Homo sapiens: one gene and its partners. The protein of the gene in region 4 purifies or fractionates together with the protein of the main gene of each other region. This does not show direct contact. Each region holds a gene or a part of one and is shown on either strand. Other genes may lie near its edges.

Region 1 (3,535 bases), on a different chromosome or scaffold from region 4:
GGTTTTTATGAGCTCAGAAGAGAGGAAGTGTGTGCTGATTGGCCCATGGGTGGCCATGGGTGGGCCCAGAAAAAGCACCATAAGTTCTCACTGTGGTTTGCGGACTCTTAACCAGAACCGACAGCCCAGCCCCCATGCTTCAGGCCATCCCTGGCTTGAAGGTGGGGCTTCACTGGGGACCCATCCCTTTCCGCCCAGGAGCCTGCCTCCTGCCACCATTCATGTCATCCACAGTGCCCAAGCTGTTTGTACCAAGGGATGCCTGCAGGCCTACACTGAGCCATCCTCAGTCCTCCCTTGGCCTCCCTCCCATGCTCATTGGTGCCCAAAGTCCGGAGTGGGCTGAGACAGCAGGGGCCTGGTGTATCAGCACTGCCCCAACCACATATATACAGGTCACGACATCACCTGGGCTTTGCCACAATTTTGCTCCACCCCAGAGTGGGTGCGGGGAGTGGGGAGAGGCCAGGCAGCAGGAGTGGCATTTTGGAGCCTGTGGGTGTAGCTGTGGCTGGGTGGCTGCAGCTGTACCCAGGAACACGGGGCCCCTGCTCCACCATCTTGGAAGAGGGCAGGGCTCCCACCTGTTCCCAGCTCCTTCCAGCTCCGTGGAGTGTGCAGCCCTGGCCATGCCTCTCCCACTGCAGCTGGTGTCTTCGCAGCAGCTGCTCCAGTTGGGCCACTGCTGCCATCATTAGGTCCTTCTCCAGATTAGTTAATTTTAAATTATTGAACCTTCTTGAGCTCAAGAATAGAAAGCCTAAAAGGGTGAGTCATATATTAGAGGCTTACAAAAGATTCAGGGGTGGAAGGACAGAATTTTTGATCAAATTTTGCTTTGTACTTGGGCTTGCAGGAACTGTGGAAGGTGCATCAGTGAAGAAATGGACCAATGTGTATAATCATGGAATCTCCTTGCTAACCATCACCACCAGCTCTCCTTAATACATGAGCAAGAGTGGGTCAGGGGAGAAGGAAAAGAGGTCAACATGAAGCTAAAGCAGCGAGTCGTGCTGTTAGCAATTCTCCTTGTCATTTTTATCTTCACCAAAGTTTTCCTGATTGACAACTTAGATACATCAGCTGCCAACCGGGAGGACCAGAGGGCCTTTCACCGAATGATGACTGGCTTGCGGGTGGAGCTGGCACCCAAGCTGGACCATACCTTGCAGTCTCCCTGGGAGATTGCAGCCCAGTGGGTGGTTCCCCGGGAAGTGTACCCTGAAGAGACACCAGAGCTGGGGGCAGTCATGCATGCCATGGCCACCAAGAAAATCATTAAAGCTGATGTGGGTTATAAAGGGACACAGCTGAAAGCCTTACTGATACTTGAAGGAGGCCAGAAAGTTGTTTTCAAACCTAAGCGGTAAGTTTTGATCTTGGAAGCTGCATGTGCTAGTTGGTTGATTCATTTAACTTGGGATTTATATAAGATTTATTTTGTCATCTTCTCTTGGAAGTCTCTTCAGTAAAATAAGAGGGGTAGACTAGATCTCTAAAGTCTTTTCTAGCACTTAACATGAATCTACCTTTATAGTATCATATAGAATAGTCTTCCTGCCCTAAAAATCCTCTGTGTTCTACCTACTCATTTTTCCCTCTCTGCCCCAGAACACCTGGTAACCCACTGGTCTTTTTACTATCTCCGTAGTTTTGCCTTTTCCTGAATGTAATATAGTTGCAATCACAGAATGTAAGCCCTTTCAGATTGGCTTCTTTCACTTAGTAAAGTGCATTTAAGGTTTATACATATCTTTTTGTGGCATGATAGTTCATTTGTTTTTATCACTGAATAATATTCCATTGTCTAGATGTACCACAGCTTAATTATCCATTCACTTACTGAAGGACATCTTGGTTGCTTCCAAGTTTGGGGCAATTGTGAATAAAGCTGCTATAAACATCCATGTGCAGGTTTTTGTGTGGACATAAATTTTCAACTCATTTGGATAGATACCAGAAGCATAATTGCTGGACCACATGGTAAGAGTACGTTTCATTTTGTAAAAAACTGCTAAACTATCTTCCAAAGTAGCTGTACCATTTTGTGTTTCTACCAGCAATGCATGAGAATTCCTGTTGCTCCACATCCTCACCAGGGTTTGGCATCAGTGTTTCAGATCATAGCTGTTCTAATAGATCTCTTATTTCTTTCACCTGTTTTAAGTAAAGAATTGGGCCATTTTAGTTACCTTAGTTAACTAAATATGTATGTTGTTCATGATCCCTTTGGACTTCCTAGGGATCTACAGAGATAATTTGTGTGACAATTCTGTGATACAGTTAATTATTTTTATTTATTTATTTATTTCTCTACACAAGACAGCTTGGAGGGTATAGTTAATTTTCTAAAAATGTTTTCTGAGTGTATGAATCTGAATTAGGTTAACATCATGATGGTGATTTGTATTCTTTTGCCGGGAGTTAGTTACCAATGAATATTCTCAAAGTTTGTAATGTCTGAAATCTTTTGGGTACTAAACATTTTTTTCATTCCTCAGTAGAGCTTTTGAAAAAATTATAACATGACTTTAGATTTCTTTCTGGAGTGGGAGAAGAAATGTAGGGAAAAGATGGACAAAATTCAACTCCCTTTCTTACCCAACTATTAGTAAATGAAAGGCAGTCAGAGCATGAATGTATAGGGAGCCCAGAAATGGAAGGGATCACTGTTGGTCTGGAACTGGGAAATATATGTCAGTGATGTGGAAATTAGGAAAGTTAAAACATTTGGTAGACTTTCAGAGAATAAAAATTTGACTGGGGCTGGGCGTGATGGCTCATGCCTGTAATCCCAGCACTTGGGGAGGCCGAGGTGGGTGGATCACTTGAGCCTGGGTGATGTAGTGAGACTCTGTCTCTATAAAAAAATAAAAAATTAGCTGGGCGTGGTGGTGTGCACCTATAGTCTCAGCTACTTGGAAGGCTGAGGTGGGAGGATGGGAAGATTGCTTGAGTGCGAGAGTTTGAGGCCGCAGCAAGCCATGCTCGTGCCACTGCCCTCCAGCCTGGGTGACAGAGTGAGACCTGTCTCAAAAAAAAAAACCAAAAAACAAAAAAAAACCGTGGTTATGTGGGCCTGGGATCTAATTTCTGTAATGCACACTATTTGCCAGGGATTACACTAAGTACTTTTGTATCTCTTAATCCTTTAAACCCTTATACGAAGGTTTAACCTTTTTGGACAATTTCAGTTCTTATTTCCTGAATAAGAAACTGAGGTTCAGAGAGTGTAACTAACTTGACAAGGTCACCTCACATCAATCAGTGGTACAGAAGTTTGAACCCATATTTGTTAGAGTTGTAAACAGCTTGTATTCTGCCACACACATGGAATTCTCTAAGTTTGTTTGCTTCCCATAAGTGATGACGTGGAGCACTCATCATCAAAAATCGCATTTAGCTTTGAAGTTTGGTCTTTGACTTCTTGGCCTGAGAGATAAGCAGCATAAACAGAGTAATGGAAAAAGGCAAACTAAAGACAAAAATAAAATTTGTATATAAAGAGATGGCCGGGCACGGTGGCTCACGCCTG
Region 2 (3,535 bases), on a different chromosome or scaffold from region 4:
AAAACAGCTACAGTTCCCATAAACGTGTAAATGTTTGCTCTTCACCACAGAACTATGGGAATGTTTTCTTGAGATTGTTAAATATATGAAATATTTTATTTAGAGAGAAAACTTTTACCTTAGAGCAAAGAGTTCACCGATTTTCTGCATAACTTCTTCATGAGATAGTTTCACTTTCTTCCCAGCTTTTAAAGCCTAGTTGAGAGGGAATCGGAAAAACCAAAAAACCATGTATCTCTCTTTCTAATAAGCATTAGGTCAACAGGGCAAAATCTGAAGTGGCATAATTTGGATCCTATGTAAATATTTTTTAGGATGGCTGTCTCCCAGATTAATGTCTTAACTCACCTTGAAATTTCATAATTTTATTAGGTAGAAATTGTATATTCTCTTTTTTCATTTCCCTTCTCATCAGCATTTTCAATGATATATACATTCCTAATCTCTTAGTAGAAAAGCAGGGCCTCCTTTCCGAAGTATAATTAGATTACTCTTTCACAATAAAGACACAGTTAATTACAATATGATGATTTTTAATGTATACTGAAATTTCAATATAACTTTATATGTATTTTTCATACCACTATTTTTCTCATAATTTAGCAAAACACTTTCTTAAATCAGGAAAAGTGGTCATAATTTCCATTCTCAGAGAGAAACATTTCACTTTTTTCTTTAATTCAGTTACATTAAAAATACTGCAACTGACGGGCATGGTGGCTCGTGGCCTGTAATGCTAGAACTTTGGGAGGCCGAGGCAGGAGGATCGCTTGAGCCCAGGAGTTCAAGACCAGCCTGGGCAACATGGCCAGACCCCATTTCAATTATATTAATATTAAAAAAAAAATACTGCACCAACAGAGGAAACAATTTGAAGTTTTAAAAAGTAAAAAGTAATCAATATGAAGTTTCTTAATTTGTCATTTTATATGTAACTGGGAGTTCTTAAGTTTACTGTAGTTTTCTTATTGTTTGTAATAATGTTGTTGTACTCCTAAACAATCGGCCCTCTATAAGTTCTGCAACTGCAGATTCAACCAACTGCAAATTGACAGTATTTTGAGAAAAAAGAATGGTTGCATCTGTACCGAACATGTACAAACTGTTTTTTCTTGTTATTATTTCCTAAATAATACAGTATAACAACTATTTACATAGTATTTACATTATATTAGGTATTTTAGGTAATCTAGAGATGGTTGAAAGTATACATGAGGATATGCATAGGTTATATGCAAATATATACCATTTTATATCAGGGATTTGGACACTGGTAGATTCTGGTATCCAGTGGGGTCTTGGAACAAATCTCCCATGGATACTGATGGATAGCTATATATTGTTATATTGGGAAATTCATATTTTTTACATATAAAAATCAATCCTTGAATAAGCATAAAATTGATATAATTACCTCAGGAATTGACTGAATAGATTCAATAAATTTATCCAGTGATGCTTCCCAAATTGCCAGTTTTACTGGGAAAAAAATTAATAATGGAACATTTCTTTATCATCATATTCACATGTATATAAAATACATAATTGCACAGCATCTTCACTACTATTTCAGTAATAGTTTAAGAAAAAGTACTAAAACCTTGAAAATATAATTTAAGAATAGTTAATTATCATAAAGGACAGAATTAAAGTGGATAGAGGAAACTGAATCGCTTTCCATGCCCTATTGGAAGACCAAAGCTACATTTAGTAGAACTCTTGATTTTCTAGTATTACATCTTGGAAACTGAGGAGGGTAGGGTACACCTTGATACCATGGGTAGCTCTGCAGATAGGGCGCGACTAAGACTTTCCTGGCCTCCCCTTCACTCCTCAGGACTAAGAGTAAACCTCAGAAATCTCCGAAGCCCCTCAGAGTGGGATGGACAGGACGCTGCAGCAGCCACCTAAGGTAGACTGCTGGCAAAAGAAATTCTTAAAGAACTTGTATAGTTTTATTCGGGATGTGGATCTTTCAGAACAAACTTATAGCCACTGTGACTCTGGGTCCCATTCCTATGGAACACTAGAGTATGTTTTTCTACACTGGGACCTGTGCCCAGTCACACAAGGCTGGGCTTCTCTGTCTGGATTAGAGACTATCTAAGAATAACAATCGCATAGAGAGAAGAGAAAAAAACAAAGGCTAATATAATCATCATCTAAAAAATACTTTTGGAGAGGTTAAGCTTTATTAATACAATTAATAAGGAATGAGTAACTTCAGCACAGTACTATCTTTTATACTAGATATTTTTTCTGATGGAGGGAAAAAAAGGAAAAGGAATGCTAAGGCTTTGTTGAGTATTCTGAAAATATACCAAAATCGTGACTATTTAAACTTCCCTCAGTGAAATGACAACTGTAGTACCCTATCCCATAAGCAGTAGTAACTTACCAGAAAGGCATAGAGCATTGGAGAAAGCAAACTTCTCTAGAATGGCATCATCTAAATCCAGCTCTGAATTTAACTTGATTTCCCCCCTGTGAAGTTTTGACTGTCCCCTGTGAAAAGCAAAAAGATAATACCTTCTAAATCTTAAAAAGCACTTTAACTTTTCCTTTGAAAAAGACACCATATCATCTTTCTGGAGGTCATTTTGACAATTTGTATCAAGAGTGTTACAAATGTTCTCATATCCTTTGGTCCAGGTAATTCCCTTTCTAGGAGTTTATCCTAAGGAAATAATCTAAGATGCAAAGAAAAATTTGTATACAAGAAAACTTTTTTTTTTTTTTTTGAGACAGTCTCACTCTGCCGCCCAGGCTAGAGTGCAGTGGTGCGATCTCAGCTCACTGCAACCTCAGTCTCCTAGGTTCAAGCGATTCTCCTGCCTCAGCCTCCCTAGTAGCTGGGATTACAGGCATGCGTAACCACACCCAGCTAATTTTTTTTGTATTTTTAATAGAGATAGAGTTTCACCATGTTGGCCAGGCTGGTCTTGAATTCCTGACCTCAAATGATCCACCCACCTCGGCCTCCCAAAGTGGTGCGACTACAGGTGCGAGCCACCTTGCCCAGCTGAAAACTTTTAAAAAAATGGTCAGTGTTGGCTGGGCACGGTGGCTCACGCCTGTAACCCCAGCACTCCGGGAGGCCGAGGCAGGTGGATCACGAGGTCAGGAGATTGAGACCATCCTGGCTAACATGGTGAAACCCCGTCTCTACTCAAAACACAAAATAAAATTAGCCGGGTGTGGTGGCGGGCGCCTGTAGTCCCAGCTACTCGGGAGGCTGAGGCAGGAGAATGGAGTGAACCCGGGAGGCGGAGCTTGCAGTAAGCCGAAATCACGCCACTGCACTCCAGCCTGGGAGACTGAGCAAGACTCTGTCTCCAAAAAAAAAAAAAAGGTCAGTGTTTAAGAGTAAAAAATTAGGAAATAAACCAAATGTTCAGTAGGGGTTGGCTCAGTAATAGTCACTCCACACAAGAAAAACTTAAAAGTGTGTTTTGGAAGGATAGTTAATAAAAAGGAGAACGTTCACAGTAAATTTCTATGTGAAAAAATGCTGCATATAAAACTATATATGGAG
Region 3 (3,535 bases), on a different chromosome or scaffold from region 4:
AAACCTCCACCTCCCAGGTTCGAGCGATTCTCCTGCCTCAGCCTACTGAGTTGCTGAGACTACAAGCGCACGCCAACATGCCCAGCTAATTTTTGTATTTTGTGGTAGAGACGGAGTTTCACCATGTTGGCCAGGCTGGTCTCGAACTCCTGACCTCAAGTGATCTGCCCGCCTCAGCCTCCGAAAATCCTCAGATTACAGGCATGAACTACTGCATCTGGCCTGAATGGTACTATTATATTCATAGTCTCACCAATACAATTATTAAATAGCTATTATTCAAGTAATACATCTTTTCTAATACAAAACATTGAGAAAATTACAAGGTTTGAGGACCGATAAATAATATTTAACAATAATGATGATGTTAATTAAATACCAATTCAGTAAAACTTACATGTGGGCCCTAAATGTGTAGATAGGCTCTACATCTAAAGAGGCACTCCTAAAAGAGGGGGAAAAAGGGTAGGGGAAGAGAAGGCAATTAAATAACTATGAATCACTGGTTGATATTAAATAGTCATTAGATCAAATGTGTGCATTAAAGACATGCAACAATAATGAGGAATAATTACTTATATTAGCAAAATTGGAAGAAATACACCAGGCTAACACTAAAATACTTGCTTTTTGGCAGGAACTGTTTTTTGCAGGTTCCAAAGTTTCAGGGTATGGTCCTCAGAAGCAGTAACCAGCACAGGTTCTACAGGATGAAAAGCTAATGCCCGTACTCCATCAAAATGGCTACGTAGTGTATACTTGGGATTCCATGTCTTTCGAAAGGCATCTTTATTAGCAGGCAACTAAAAGGAAAGAGCACAATATTTAGTGGTAAAAGTAGTAAACTGGAAGGCATGTGGAGTGTTTGTTCGTTTCTTTTTGGTGTGTTTAACACATATATTTAAAACTGTTGGCTAAAATGTCCAGTGGAAATTTAATGTACCTTTAAAACTTTCTAAAAAAACTTTATCATTTAATAATAACTCAGAATAATTTCATTCGCCTTACAAATAGCCTAGGTCAAATGAAGAGTTCCTTAATCTGTTTTTACCTATTAAGCTAAACCCAAAGCTCCCATTAAATGTCAGATGAGAACAAAATAACTACCATTGCTGCAATACTTTACATGAAAAATAATTACATAAGTTATTACAAATATCCAACGGTACAGTATTAACAGTAAAGTTGTCATTTAGAAAACGTATTAGCATGTGAAATTATTAAAGGCAGCAAGTTAAGGTACTTTCTGAAAGTCTGAACTAAAGACCCTTTAAGAATATTTTTATCCCATTTTCATAATTCTTGATATTGACAGAGGTTTATCTTTTTACCTTCACATTTCTCCATCTGTAAAGATAGGCTGTGAAACCACTTCTAAAGCAGTCAAAAGTTTACTGGAATTTAGTCACTTATATACTTAAAAAAATATATTAATGAGAATAATCCAGCCCACCAAAGGCTGTCTCTAAGCATGCTAATGTTAAGTATAAAACGTGGAAAAAAGAAACTCATTATAAAAAGAAAAAAAAATTGCTGAAAAACTGCAATTAACATAAAGATCTAACAAGTATAGTTAACTCTCAATTGAAATATTAATGACTAGAAAAAATTAAATCCAAGACAAGTTTCACCTCTAACACTGGACTCCCCACTCCCCAACCCTTCCATCCACTCCCCAATCCTCTAATGAAGGAGTTAAGTATTCAGGAAATGATGCAAGCTAACTTTAAAATGTTCAGAAACTTTAAAATATTTCCTTAAGAAAATAAAAGTTCAAAAATAAAACATGCTTTTTAAGAAGTACTCTGAAGGCAAATATATGATTCAGGTTATTTTTTTTCTTGTTAACACCAAAATATGGCTTAATTTGAGATAATTGAGAGTTGACTACTCAAGATGTATTTACTGACCAATATATTAATCATCTCAAACTTCTAGTTAATCCACCAAAATACCTAAAAAAAAAATTTAAATACCACAAAGAGAGTAGTTATAAAAGAAAAACATGTCACTTCAAATCAACACATTGACACAAACTTATCTTTTCCATGCACCTTGATATTAATTCTGTTTTATAAGTGATTCCAAAAAATAAGGAGCCTTCTATTAAATCATTAAAAAATTAAAAATAAAACTGCACTTACATCATAACTATAGTCTGCATCATTTGTTACCGTCAAGTCTGCAAGGTCTCCAAGGCCCAGTACACTTAACAAAACATCATCAGAACCCATAATAAATGACTTGCCTCCTCCAGATGGAAACGTTATTGGTTCAGCTATAAAGAACAAAACCGCTTCTTAAATGCTGAAAAATCATACAGTACAAGACAATATTGTGGGGAAAATTTAAGCACTTAACAGTTACAATATTCAGTAATATAATTAATTTTTATTTTCCCACTTCTACTCAAAAAATCCTGTTACTAAGCAGTGTTAAACAAATGTGTTGGAACTGTGGTGTATTAACTGTCCACAAATAAAATGTGCACTAGATATATTATTCTGGGGTGGAAGCTAGGGCACAAAAGCTTTGTCTGTCTAAATCTCTTATCACTTCAGTACAATTATAACTATAGTTTACATGTTAAATAAGAAATAGGACAAATTTTGATTAAATAATGGAGTTAAATATCAGATTTTTGCATTCATGAGGGGAAACCTCTACCATGGACCTCAAGGACCTCAAAGTAGTCATATAGTATTTTTTAAATGTTAATAGGTTGTCACCAAGTCCTTTTGCTTTCTAAAGAAGTACTAGGCATCCTAGTCCCTGATAAAAACTAGTACAAACATTGAAATGTAAATGGTTTACAGTCAGCTATATACTATATCAGTTCACTAGAATGAAGCTTTAATTGTTCAGATTCCTTTAGTAACAGCAATGGTCTAGGAAAAAATTCTTCCACCAACAATGTCAGTTTCCTTTCTATAAAAGGTTAATCCACGTGGTCTTCAGAATGTCTTCCAGCTTTATTTATTTATTTATTTAGAGACACAGTCTTGCTCTGTCGCCCAGGCTGGAGTGCAGTGGTGCGATCTCGGTTCACTGCAACCTCCACCTCCTAGGTTCAAGCAATTCTCCTGTCTCGGTCTCCCAAGTAGCTGGGATTACAGGCGCCCGCCACCACGCCCGGCTAATTTTTCTGTTTTTAGTAGAGATGGGCTTTCACCATGTTGGCCAGGCTGGTCTTGACTCCTGACCTCAAGTGATCCACCTGCCTCGGCCTCCCAAAGTGCTGGGATTACAGGCGTGAGCCACCGCGCCCAGCCTGTCTTCCAGCTTTAAAGCTTTGACTATGACTTTTATTTTAATGTCCCATTCTAGTTACCATGACACTCTAAAATGAAGCAAGTAATCTTGACCACAGAGCTTTAATTTCTGATCAGATTTGCCATTTCAATTTCAAACTAAACTCAGGTTGAGCTTCACTTAGTTTTCTCAACTATATCATGTGCATTATTACAGCTTTTCATGTTAATATTAACAGTTCCAATTATTTAAAATGCGTTTTCCTTTCTATACATACTACTGA
Region 4 (2,261 bases):
CAGCATCCCTTTCAACAGGCAGAAGCTGGCATGGTGACACCTTGGCACAGCAAAGGATGGCAGAGGACTGCAATGCTTCAGCAGCTGGAGGAGGCAGGGGAATAGGAGGGATTAACCCAGCCTCCCTGGAGGGGACCAGGTAGACTGAGAACAGACAGACAGATGGAGGGGGAATATCAGGAAAAGTACATCACAGACCTTCCAAAGCTGATCATGATGTATGCACTGGGTCTCCACTCTGGTCTTGATAGAGCTGTGGCTGAAGGGGAGGCAGTGGGGAAATGGCAAAACAGTAGATTCTGAAACTCTGGGTTCGTTTTACCCCAGCCTCAATGAATATTTCTTTTCTGTTTTTGATTTTTAGTGGAGACAAGGTCTAACTATGTTGTCTAGGCTGGTCTCAAACTCCTGAACTCAAGTGATCCTGCTGCCTTAGCCTCCCAGAGTGCTGGGATTACAGGTGTGAGCCACTGCACCAGGCCTAAGAAAAAGACAGAACACAACTTTGTTTTTTTAATGAAATATTTGCCCACAGGAGCTTTAGGAGAGGAAGTGACTTTTACATTCTCTGGCTCTAATGGACAGCCACCCGTCCTCTAATGGGACCAGCTCTAACGGGACAAGCCTCACCCATCGGAACAGAAGCCATTAGCACAATTCTGCGATCTCACAGAGTTCCTCCCTATAATCCTCAGGTTCTTGGAGGAATCGCCCACTCAACCATGCTAACCACACCCGTGAGAGGAGCAGCCTGGGTAATGAACATCCAGCTCTGCCTCTTCCCTCCCTCTTTTATTTACCATAGACTGCTCCAGGGCATGAAGAACAAAAACCACCACTCTGTCTTGTTAAAATCCAAGTGCATTTTTTAGAATATGTGATTTTGCTTGATTTTATTTTATTAAAAAAGACTGGAACTCAGTCCCATATTCCTATTAAGTCCATTTTCCCAAGAGATGTCACTGTTTGAGATAATAACTTAAATATTCTTGATGTGGAGGTAGTCTCTCTCTTCCTAGTGGGATGTCTTCTTAGCTCCTTTCCCAAACTTGGCATCAAGACCAAGACCTATGAAAAGGAAGAAAATGGGCTTAGCCTTATGGGGGGAAATGAAACTTACCAATGATTGTGGTGGGGTGGGGTAGTCGGCCTTGTATCTCCAAAATGGGGGCTTTAAATAAAATACATGTCAGAACACTGGTTTTATGTAACTTCCTCAGAGACAAGAGAATGGCACCAGGATACTAGTTATTACAGATATCTGTATCTATATAAATATATCTATATAGAGATACAGATAGATATAGATACATATATAATACAGCAAGACTAAAAGAAATTTAAGAGTCAAAACTTCTAGGCTATGGCTGAATGTGGTGACTCACACCTGCAATCCCAGCATTTTGGGAGACTGAGGCAGGAGGATCATTTGAGCCCAGGAGTTTAAGGCCAGCCTAGGCAACACAGCAAGACCCCATCGCTACAAAAAAAAAAAAAAAAATTGGTCAGGTATTGTGGTACATGCCTATAATCGCAACTACTCGGGAGGCTGTGGTGGGTGGATCACTTGAGTCCAGGAGATCAAGGTTGCAGTGGACTATGATCATGCCACTACACTCCAGCCTGAGCAACAGAGGGAGACCCTAGGAAGGCTGGATTAGAAATAAAGCTTCCTTTTCTCCTTTTATTTTCTTTGGATACAGATTTTCACTCTGTCACCCAGGTGGGAGTGCAGTGGTGTGATCACAGCTCACCTCAGCCTCCACCTCCTGGGCTCAAACGATCCTCCCACCTCAGCCCCGAGTAGCTGGGACCACAGGCGTCTGCCACCATGCTCAGCTAATTTTTGTATTTTTTTGCAGAGACAAGGGTCTCATCATGTTGCCCAGGCTGGTCTCGAACTCCTAAACTCAAGCGATACTCCTGCCTCAGCCTCCCAAAGTGTTAGAATTACAGGCGTGAGCCACCACACTCAGCCTCTTTTCTCTTTTAAAAAAGTTTTCTCTGGGCTGAGCGCGGTGGCTCATGCCTGTAATCCCAGCACTCTGGGAGGCTGAGGCGGGGGGAATCACCTGAGGTTGGGAGTTCGAGACCAGCCTGACCAACACGGAGAAACCCCATCTCTACTAAAAATACAAAATCATCCGGGCATGGTGGTGCATGCCTGTAATCCTAGCTACTCCGGATGCTGAGGCAGGAGAATTGCTTGAACCCAGGAGGAGGAGGAGGCTCACCCGATTGGTGAGCTGAGATCGTACCAC

What was found.
Region 1: the proteins of SLC35B1 (region 4) and FAM20B purify together in Homo sapiens (affinity purification with mass spectrometry; one large-scale study listed by BioGRID and IntAct). This does not show direct contact.
Region 2: the proteins of SLC35B1 (region 4) and RMND1 purify together in Homo sapiens (affinity purification with mass spectrometry; one large-scale study listed by BioGRID and IntAct). This does not show direct contact.
Region 3: the proteins of SLC35B1 (region 4) and STRN3 purify together in Homo sapiens (affinity purification with mass spectrometry; one large-scale study listed by BioGRID and IntAct). This does not show direct contact.

What each region holds. Positions count from the first base shown.
Region 1 is NC_000001.11:179,042,859-179,046,393, forward strand, and holds part of FAM20B (glycosaminoglycan xylosylkinase), read left to right. Parts: intron 1-856; 5' UTR 857-989; coding exon 990-1,366; intron 1,367-1,914; coding exon of another isoform or gene 1,915-1,983; intron 1,984-3,535. UniProt on the Homo sapiens protein: Responsible for the 2-O-phosphorylation of xylose in the glycosaminoglycan-protein linkage region of proteoglycans thereby regulating the amount of mature GAG chains.
Region 2 is NC_000006.12:151,421,127-151,424,661, forward strand, and holds part of RMND1 (required for meiotic nuclear division protein 1 homolog), read right to left. Parts: intron 2,506-3,535; coding exon 2,399-2,505; intron 1,480-2,398; coding exon 1,415-1,479; intron 196-1,414; coding exon 119-195; intron 1-118. UniProt on the Homo sapiens protein: Required for mitochondrial translation, possibly by coordinating the assembly or maintenance of the mitochondrial ribosome.
Region 3 is NC_000014.9:30,911,380-30,914,914, forward strand, and holds part of STRN3 (striatin-3), read right to left. Parts: intron 2,279-3,535; coding exon 2,145-2,278; intron 804-2,144; coding exon 628-803; intron 446-627; coding exon 398-445; intron 1-397. UniProt on the Homo sapiens protein: Calmodulin-binding scaffolding protein which is the center of the striatin-interacting phosphatase and kinase (STRIPAK) complexes.
Region 4 is NC_000017.11:49,700,443-49,702,703, forward strand, and holds the end of SLC35B1 (solute carrier family 35 member B1), read right to left. Parts: intron 1,069-2,261; coding exon 1,016-1,068; 3' UTR 501-1,015; downstream 1-500.